2 separate regions of the Homo sapiens genome follow, and region 1 is linked to region 2. The links come from fine-mapping of genetic effects on gene expression. Tissue or cell type: whole blood. Region 2 holds a variant in brackets; the other region holds the start of a gene. All regions are shown on one strand. Distances are between the middles of the regions.

What was found. PIP is the estimated chance that this variant, and not a neighbour inherited with it, causes the effect.
Region 1: FDX1 starts here. The variant in region 2 is fine-mapped to the expression of FDX1 in whole blood (INTERVAL, PIP 0.92).

The regions. Positions count from the first base shown.
Region 1 is chr11:110,427,955-110,433,337 of GRCh38, forward strand. FDX1 (ferredoxin 1) reads left to right here and starts at 1,994. Exons shown (of 4, transcript NM_004109.5): 1 at 1,994-2,351. The coding sequence starts at 2,167. RefSeq lists a silencer at 1,808-2,457 and an enhancer at 2,528-2,807.
Region 2 is chr11:110,354,301-110,359,683 of GRCh38, forward strand. It overlaps LINC02732 (long intergenic non-protein coding RNA 2732), which reads left to right and starts at 814. Exons shown (of 4, transcript NR_135100.2): 1 at 814-1,218. The variant T/C (reference allele first, on the strand shown) is at 2,460.

The DNA.
Region 1 (5,383 bases), 74 kb after region 2:
AGTAAAAGATGGGCTGGGCATGGTGGCTCATGCCTGTAGTCCCGGCACTTTGGAAGGCTGAGGTGGGCAGATTGCTTGAGCTCAGGAGTTCCAGACTAGCCTGGGCAACATGGCAAAACCCCATCTCTAAGGAAAAAAAGAAAAAAAAAGGGATGGAGGGGTGGGAGTTTTATAGACAAAGAAATACATAAGCAAACAGATAAGCAAAAGCACGTCCTCAGTAATTCCATGTTGCTTTATCTGTATTCATGATCATGTTTACAAATCCATTCTGGAATTCTGCTGACTACTGATATTTGCAATTTTTGGCATTACTTCTCATCCACCTTAGAAAACCTGGAGAACATTTTTTCTATCTTTAATCTTCATATACATGCTTAATGAATTCTGATGATTATTAATGGAAATTTCATAACATCAATTTATTCACCAATATTTATTAGACCCTTGATATGTTCAAGACCCTGTAGCTGGTGCTGTCGGAGTCACTAAGATGAACTATATAAATAACTACTCTATGTGTACGAATAACTACCCTACAAAGCAGAAAGCTATCAAGTGCCTTAAGGGAGTTGAAACTGTATTTGCTACAGGAGGGCTGAGAGAAGACAGAACATCTACGATTTTTTTTCTTTTCAATTCTCTTCCTACAACTAATTCATCCGACCTTGGAAGTTTGGTCTTACTAAAAACAAAAGTTAGCTGTTCTTTTACAACCTCCTCTTCAAGATTACTTGTCAGGGTTTGCTGTGCCCTTCGCAGCTTGAAAGACTTTCTCTTCATCCAACGATTTGAGGCAATTAGGAGCCACTGCCTTCTCTCTGCCATTGGGTTCCAGAAAGCACCATACATTGTCCGCAGATACTTTACTCATGCTTACACTTTCTTGTTCTGAATCTTCAAAAATTAGTGGCGTGTGGTGGCACACGCCTGTAGTCCTAGCTACTCGGGAGGCTGAGGCAGGAGAATCACTTGAACCTGGGAGGCGGAGGTTGCAGTGAGCCGAGATTTCGCCACTGCACTACAGCCTGGGCAGAATAGAGAGACCCCATGTCAAAAAAAGAAAAAAAAAGTATCTGATTGTGTTTAGCATATCTGCAATATCCCCTTGACTTTGGCCTTTAGCCTCTTTATGAGTACCCTGATGGAGGAAGGCCCAGGAAGCGGTAGCCTTCCTGGTTTGTGACGCACGGTGTGCATTGCGTATTAGATTAACATCAGAATGGCCCTGAAGGCTGGAACATCTTATCTGTGTTTGAGAGTTATGGAAACTCTGATCCTCCATGAGAATAATTTTTCCAAGGTCTCAGATCTCTAAAGCAGTAGATCTTGGATCTGAACATTGCTATTTCTGACCTTAAAGCCCATGCATTTCCCACAACATATGAACCATGATAAGGTGTATTTTAAAGTTCATCTTTTCTGTTTTTTGTGAAAGTCTTTTAGAGATCTCAGCTCATCACAAAGTTTCCGGTTCAGTCTCGTGGGTTTCATGTACTCAGCCAGCATTTACTTGCCAGTCAAGGTCTAGGATGGCTACCTGTCCTCTGCAGGAGCCCCAAGCCTATTCATTAATTTCATTTACAATTTTATAGTCATAATTATTTCTTTGTATAATAGCATTCTGAGATTTTCCAAAATTTCCCACTGTTTTTGTTTTACAGTGGGCAGAATTCACTTTGCTCTAACTTGACTCCAAGATGACACAATTTCCCAGTTTTTTTTTTAACGGCTAGGGGATGGGGGTATGCGGAACAGAACACAGTGGTCTAGCTAACCGATTTCCGCTAGACGTCCAGCTATCTTTCAAAATATTTTGTTTCTGCACGGCAACTTCAGCCGCTAAAAAAGCATCCAGCTTACAACGGAACCTGGAGGGTTGGTAAAGGCCCCCTGCGCTGGCCCCGCCCCATGGGACCGGGCGGCGTGGGCGTGAGAGGCGGGGCGGGGCCGCGCTCTGCTTGCCAATGTCTTTATAGGTCACCCGGAAGGCACGCGGAACCTCGGCGCGGTGCTTCCAGCAGGGTCTCTCCGCCACTCCAGCCCCGCGCCCCTCGCCGCGGCCCTCGGGCGTCTGCGCCGCAGCTGCCGCCCCCGCCTCTTTGGAGTCTCTCGCGGCCTCAAAGCGCGGCCTGCGTCGCTTCCGGCAGTTCCCGACCGCGGGCGATGGCTGCCGCTGGGGGCGCCCGGCTGCTGCGCGCCGCTTCTGCTGTCCTCGGCGGCCCGGCCGGCCGGTGGCTGCACCACGCTGGGTCCCGCGCTGGATCCAGCGGCCTGCTGAGGAACCGGGGGCCGGGCGGGAGCGCGGAGGCGAGCCGGTCGCTGAGCGTGTCGGCGCGGGCCCGGAGCAGGTAGGGCGCCGTGCGGGCGCGATCGCCGGCGCGGGCCGGGGTCCCCGGTGGGTGGCGCCTGGCTCTCTGGGCCGAGTCTCTGGTTCCAGTGCCTTCTGCGCGCCGGGCCCACACCCCGGAGGCCTGCCTCTCGCCCCCCTCTTCTGGGGTGCTCTCGCGGCTCCGTCTCGCTGCTCGGTGGCGTCGCTGCCTCCCTTCCGTCGCACCGCAGAGTTCCTTTCCGCATCACCCACTCCCGGCGGGAATCGGGGACCCTGGACGCCCAGCTCCCTTTCCCAGCGCTTCCCGTGCCCTGAGGAAAGCCGGGACTTTGCTGCTGCTTGTTCTCCGTGTGATTTGTCTGGGATCTGACCTTTGCTCTGCCCGAAACTGGCAGTGACCTTCGCGACAGGCTTCCCTCCTGCTGTCCTGGCCTGACACACCTGCCAGCTGTTTTTTTCAGGGCCTTGCCCTGCTTTGAGAGGACACCCAGGTCCCAGGTCTTTGTCAGGGGGTGTCCAGGTAGAATACACCCAGCCCATACCCTCTGCTGCCCTGTAGGCCCTTTGCTAGTTGCTCAAGTGTTGAAAGCCCCTGCGTTGAAGTAATCTGCCGGGACTTGAAACTTGGCTTTGGCACTGATTGTCTGACGTGCCTAACTTGGTCAGTCCTTAGGAACCCAGTTTCTCCATTTGCAAGTTGGATATAATAACAGTGTAGACCTCCTATGGTTAATTGAAGAATCAATGAGTTAATACAGCGATACAGGTAGTCTTGTGCCTAGCACGTAATGAGGGCTCAGTAGATGCCACTTGGTAGCAGCAGCAGCAGCAGCAGCAGCAGCAGCAGCAGCTTCTTAGGTTCACAATGTTAAGAGAGTTTTGTATTAAATATTGAAAGAAATGTGACAATTTATCCCAAATGTGTTGAAGTTTTAGGTTCTTGGGCATATTTGTTTTTCAAAGACACTCCTTAGATATACTAGAGATACAATTTACACATAATTTTTACCAACATGGTGGCGATTTATATAATGCAGATCTCTCGACAGCTCTTTGACCGCATGATGTAGGGTAGCAGGAATCGAGAACTAGAGGGAGAGTGTGTTGGATTTGTACGCTGCTTTGTCTAGTTTCTTTTTGAGGTCTCTGAGAGCAGGGTCTAAGACTTTCAGTCATCTTTTCCCCACTAATCCCGTTATCTAGTGGGTGCTCCATACATTTTTGTTGTGTGAACTTTGGGGGAAATCAGGGAGAAGGCAAGCCAGATTTATTTGTTCCTGTTTCCTCTGCACTTCCCCCCCTGTCTTTGACCAGTGTGGGTACCTTGCTTTCTGTTATACAATGGATGAGTTTTGGACAACTGAATCAATTGGGACAGATATTGAACATGCTTGTGTAACTGGTATAAGGGAACATGAATGTTTTTGTAGTAATTGGGAGTTATCTTTCTCAGATTTGTTTTTTGGATTTGGATATGTCAGGTTGTTTTAAAGGGGAGCACGTCTATTTCCTCATAATCCTGCTGCCCTCTTTATTGGCACAATTTCTATTCATGGTCTTATCATTCCTCTTACAGACTTTGGAGCTACAACTGGATTTTCCAGTTCTTACTGTGTTAATGAGACTTGTGCTGTAACTACCGTAACTACTAATCACATGTGGCTATTGAAGTTTAACATAATTAAAGGTAAATAAAATTAAAGATTCAATCTCGTAGTTACACTAGCCACATTTCGAGTTCTCAGTAGCCACATGTGGCTAGTGGCTACTGTATTGGACATTGCAAGTATGTGTAGAACATCTTTGTTATGGCACAAAGTTCTTATAGACAGACAGAGCAGTTCTAGAAACTGTAGTTCTGTCTTTGAAGTTTAACAACTCGATAAGCTATCAGTAATTGAGAGTCAGAAAAACTCCTTTTACTCTAAAATACCGTGACACAAGGGGGTTTGCAGTGATTCAGGTAGCAAAGATCTTTCACGTGTATTGTTTCGTATGACTCTTAAGACAATTCTATGAGGTAGGGAGGGTAGATAAATGGGAATAAAAATTTCATATTAAGTAGCTGGCAAAACTAGGACTAGAACTCAAGAAGTTTTTGCGGATTTTAAAAAAATTTTAAATTTCTATTTATTTTTAAAATTTCAGTAGTTTTGGGGGCACAGGTGGTGTTTGGTTAATGGGTTAGTTCTTTAGTGGTGATTTTGGAGGTGTTGGTGTACTCTTCACCTGAGTGCAGTGGTGCCATCATGGCTCACTGCAGCCTACACCTCCCAGGTTCAAGCGATTCTCGTGCCTCAGCCACCCGAATATCTGGGATTACAGGCGCGTGCCACCACACTCGGCTAAGTTTTGTAGTTTTAGTAGAGATGAGATTTCACTATGTTGACCAGCCTGGTCTGGAACCCCTGGCCTCAAGTAATCTGCCTGCTTCAGCCTCCCAAAGTATTGGGATTACAGGCGTGAGTGACCACTCCCAGCATAGGGTCTACATCTTCTGACTCTTAGGTTCCATACTCTTTCAACTTAAGAATTACATTTTTCTTTCGTTTCCGCCTCCTCTCCTCTTCTTTGGTAAACCTGTTAATACTCTTACTTGGCAGTTTTTTGTAGGGCTGTTTACCTTTAATACAGACCAACAGGTTGGGCTTCTTAGCAAAAGGGCTTGGTCTTTAAATAACAGTTATTAATCAGTGTGTGTTGAATTCTACTATGTGTTACGTATTTTGCATACATTGTCAGAACTATAAGATTAATGTTGTCCAATTTTATAGAAGAGGAGGCTGATGTAAGAGATTTCGAATTCCTTTGCTGTAAGCTTAGCTCTAGAGTGCTTCAGAAGAACAGCAACGCTGAAACCTCTGGCTTTCAGTAGTGTGTATAAATGATGGAATTCTTTCTAATGTGCTTCCTGTAGCTTTAGCTACCAGGCATTCGTTGATGTCAAATCTCTAGACTTCTCTGCTGGGCTCAGACCCATACCCATATTGCCATCTGGTGTTTGGACATTCTCATCTGGCTTTTTCATTATTAAATTCAGCAGGTCTAAGC
Region 2 (5,383 bases):
TTGACACATAAAATTAATCATTACGGGCTGGGCACAGTGGCTCACCCCTGTAATCCTAGCACTTTGGGAGGCTGAGGTGGGGGAATTGCTTGGGCCCAGGAGTTTGAGACCAGCCTGGGCAACATGGCAAAACCCCATCTCTGCAAAAAATACAAAAATTAGCCAGGTGCAGTGGCTCATGCCTGTAGTCCCAGCTACTCTGGAGGCTGAAGTGATAGGATCCATTGAGCCAGGGACATCGAGGCTGCAGTGAGCCGTGATTACACCACTGCACTCCAAATTGGGTGACAGAATCAGACTGGGTGACCGAATCAGTCTTTCATGGTCCAAACCCAACTCATTCTCTCTCTCTCTTTCTCTGTTGCTCTCTCTTTCCCTGACACAGATATTCACTTAGCATTTAAACGTGACTTCTGAGACTAAAGTGAAAGAGATTTGTCAGTTATCAATATGTTCTGATATTTTTCTGATATAGATAGTTTGATAAATAGATAAATGTATAAATATTGTTCAAGTGCTTTTGGAGCTAGTGAGTTGGCTGCATTGTTATGTCTGTTTCGGGAACTCTAGAATGATATGTAAAACCCTCTTCCCTCCCTTCTTTACTTTCTTCCTTCCTTCCTTCCTTCCTTCCTTCCTTCCTTCCTTCCTTCCTTCCTTCCTTTTATCCACATTTTTTTCAGCAAACATTTAAGAGTGCTAACGATGTGTCAGCTTATGCTTGGCTCCAAGAGATTCAAAAATAAAAATGTCAAGGTCTCCTAATCTCTAGGATAGGGAGAGTCAAATTTGCATGAGGACTTTTGAGAAAAATCAAGGATGCCTGAGGGGATTTGAGTCCTACAGGCTCAGCACTTATGAAAAAGGATAAAGTCCTTCCCAGCCTGGCAGGAGAAGGAAAAGCCTGTGGTGGGGGAAGGGAGTGAAGGCGTGTGCCTCCTCATGGAACACAGGGTCGGAGTCGGCTAGGAGGGATAAGAGTACAATAGAGGGTTGTGTGACACAGACAGGCTGCCAGCCCTCAGCATGGACCCGGCACATGGAATCTGTGATCTTAAAAGAGTCAAGTGACTACCTTTGGCAACCAAAAGAGACACTGCCTTTTAGAAGGCATATCATCTGAAACTGGCTGAAAGAGCTGTCTTACTTAGGAAGAAAAATCTCTCCTTTGGAAAGAGCTGGAACTTTTAGTAAAACTGAACAGTGAGGTGGCGGAAGGTGAGTTAATGTAGTGCTGGGTAGGGAGGTCGTGTGGGCAGGTGTAAAGAGCAGAGCCAGAAGACGTGGGTTTCAATTTTGCCTCCACATACTAGCTGAGCAGTCTTGAGCAAATAATTGCTATAATTGTTTCTGGGCTGTAAAATACCAAGTGAGAACAATGACTGGTCTCATTTATAGAATTATATGAATTACTTTTTAATTCTCATAACCAACTTATGAAATAATTCTCATTACTATTCCCTTTATTTATTTATTTAGAGACAGAGTCTCACTCTGTCACCCAGGCTAGAGTGCACACCTCACTGCAACCTCAACCTCCTGGGCTCAAGAGATCCTCCTGCCTGAGCGTCTCCCCCTCCCTACTCCCCAGTAGCTGGGATGTTAGGTGTGTGCCACCCACTCTTGGCTAATTTTAAATTTTTTTTAGAGTTGGGGGTCTCACTATGTTGCCCAGGCTGGTCTCGAACTCCTGGGCTCAAATGGTCCTCTGGCCTCAGCCTGCCAAAGTCCTGGGATTATAGGCATGAGCCACCACGCCCAGCCTACTATTCCCTTTATATATTGAGGACACTGAGGCTTCAGGAGGTTGAATATATTTTCAAAATTTACATAGCTAGTAAATGGCAGAGCTAGAATTGAACCCATGTTTGTTTGATTTTAAACACTGTGTTCTTTGCCATTTACATTCTTCTGCCCCGCTTCTAAGGATCTGTATTAGGGACTAAATTAAACCAAGTTATACTAAAATGTTGGTAATTAATTTGACTATTAAATGCCTAATTGTTCTAGTACTTAATCTTAGTTTCAGCCAGGCACAGTGGCTCACGCCTGTAATCCCAGCACTTTGGGAGGCCGAGGTGGGTAGATCACTTGAGGTCAGGAGTTCGAGACCAGCCTGGCTAACATGATGAAAACCCTGTCTCTACTAAAAATACAAAAGTTAGCCAGGCGTGGTGGTGGGTGCCTGTAGTCCCAGCTACTCGGGAGGCTGAGGCAGGAGAATCGCTTGAACCCAGGAGGCGGAGGTTGCAGTGAGCCGAGATCACACCACTGCACTCCAGCCTGGGCAACAGAGCGAGACTCCATCCCCCACAAAAAAAAAAAAAATCTTAGTTTCATTTAAAGAATAGATATGAGTGTGTATATTATTTTTTCAAGTGTTATTACTTTTTAATTTAAAAAGTTTTTCCTTTATTTTTACATTTTTGTTGTGTAATTCCTTTTTGAGGAAAGAAAAA[T/C]CTTTTGAAAGTTATAAAAATGGTTAGAATGATTAGTGTAATCTTGTCAGGGCAGTATACACCTCAATTAACTAAGCTTATCCACAAATGGCCATTATTTTCTTGCTTCAGCAGTGACGTAGGAAAGGTCTGTATGCCTGGGAATGTGGAGATCTAGGTTTTAATCTAAGATCTGAGTTCATTGTCCTGTATTTATCTAAGGCCAGTCACCCTCTTTCGGCTGCTATTGCTTCATGTTTAAAACAAGGGGATTAGATGAAATGATTGGCAAAGTCCCTTGCAGCATTAATAGCCTATGAGTCTATAAAATTTTAGAAACAGACATAATTCAGAAGGATATAATTTTAAATCAATTTGTGTCACAACAGTAATAATAAACATAGTGGCTCTAAGCAAGTAACAGACTGAGAGAAAGAAACTATGAATTAGATAAGTTTGACTAGATAAGGTCTAAGTTCTTTCCAACTTTGAAATCCATGATCACATATTACAACACTGTAATTTTATAGTAGTTTGTAGGGTTTCAAAGAACTTTCATTCGATTTATCCTCTCTGATCCTCACAGGGACAATATGAAGCGGTGAGAAGAGTTGTTTTATCCACACTCTACAAATGAAGGAACTAAAGATTAAGTGGGTGGCATTGGGTCACTTGGCTAGTTGGGGACACAGCTGGGACAGCAAGGCTTTCTGACTCACACCCTGCCCTCTATGCCATAGCATTCCTGGGCTCAATAAACAGTAACTGTGAAAGAAGGTCGCCTCACACAAAACTACATTTTATTCTAGTTTGACAGATGAGTAATCCTCAGTGATAAATTCCTTTTCTGAAAAGTCTCAAAGTCCCTTGGGCAGTTTTGAGTCATTTGTAATGTCAAAAAGTTTAGGACAGACAGTATTTGCAACTTTCCTCAAATCCAAAAATCAGAAAAGCTGGGGAGAGGTTTTTACTTTTTCTTTCTTTCTCTTTTTTCTTTTTTTTTTGTAGACTAAGTCACAAGAAGGAAGGGTTTTACTTTTTCTTTTCAACTTAAAAAAGAGAGTAATTAATATCCTAAATTCTCTTTGTCCTAAGACACCTTTCCTAAGAACCATGAGCTTTTAGCTAAGTATGGAGGACGTTTAGTAGCCATGACTAAGCAACTCATCTTTCAGTTACAGAATAGCCTATGTTGGCCGGGCGCAGTGGCTCACCCTCCGTAATCTCAGCACTTTGGGAGGCCGAGGTGGGTGAATCACCTGAGGTCAGGAGTTCGAGACTAGCCTGGCCAACATGGTGAAACCCCGTCTCTACTAAAAATACAAAAATTAGCTGGGCATGGTGGTGGGCTCCTGTAGTCCCAGCTACATGGGAGGCTGAGTCAGGAGAATCACTTGAACCCAAGAGTTGGAGGTCGCAGTGAGCCGAGATGGTGCCATTGCACTCCAGCCTGGGTGATGAGCAAAACTCCCTCTCAATAAATAAATAAATAAATATTATTGTTATATTTGTGGAAAAGATAATTTGGCATCTTTTCACTCAATGAAAATATTTATTTAAATACTGTATACAAATCTATATATACTTACATATAATATAAATTTATACGTAAATATATATTATTGTTGTTATTTTATGTTATTTTATAGAAGTTATACATGCACATAATAAGAAAAAATCTTATCAGTAGAAAAAGAAGGGTGTAAAATGAATATGACCTCCATCCATTCCAGCCTAGGCCCATGCTCTAGAAACAAGCACTGTCATCGGCTATTGTTAGATGGTGTGGCGGTTGCCATTATAATTTAAAATTCCATGCTTACAGCTCTGTTTTTCCCTTTGTCAACTTTAGAAAGTACCTACTGACTTCAAAAAAGATGGGAAATTTCTTGTGTTTACACTTCCTCCCAATCTTTCTGTTCTTCTCCATCTCCAATTTGTGTTAGTTGTATTATAAAATTTTTAATTTTTTTTCTTTTTTTTTTTTTTGAGACAGAGTCTCTCTCTGTCACCCAGGCTGGAGTGCAATGGCATGATTTCAGCTCACTGCAAACTCCTCCTCTCTCCCCTGGGTTCAAGTAATTCTCCTGCCTCAGCCTCCTGAGTAGCTGGGATTACAGGAGCGTGCCACTATGCCCGGCTAATTTTTGTATTTTTAGTAGAGACGGAGTTTCACCATGTTGGTCAGGCTGGTCTCGAACCCCTGACCTCGTGATCCGCCCACCTGGGCCTCCCAAAGTGCTGGGATTACAGGCGTGAGCCACCACGCCCAGCCCTAATTTTTCTAAAAATTATATTTAAAATTATTATTTATAACTTTAAATAATGTACCTAAACTTCCATTTCTAAATTTATTTATTTAGACAGAGTCTTTTGATTCCCATTTATATAAGAGAGTCCACCTCTCAATTGTGTGTGTGTGTGTGTGTGTATATTCATGGTTTACTATGTTTACATTCTGCTCTGTAATTATAATTAAGTCTTCTGAGGATTAAAAATGAGAATCCTGAGTGGAAGTGATCCTTCACTCAGCACAGCGGTAGGCACATAGGTTTTCTATAATTGACTCGTATGGATAAACCCCATGTGGAAGAAAAAATAATCTTTTTTTTTTTTTTTGAGACCGAGACTCTCTCTGTAGCCCAGGCTGGAGTGCAGTGGCACGATCTCGGCTCACTGCAAGCTCCGTCTCCCGGGTTCATGCCATTCTCCTGCCTCAGCCTCCCGGGTAGCTGAGACTACAGGCGCCCACCACCATGCCCAGCTAATTTTTTTTGTATTTTTAGTAGAGACGGGGTTTTACTGTGTTAGCCAGGATGGTCTCGATCTCCTGACCTCGTGATCCACCCGCCTTGGCCTCCCAAAGTGCTGTAACTGCAGGCGTGAGCCATCATGCCCAGCCAAAAGTAATCTTATTTAATGGAAATTTTCCAGCTCAGATGAGA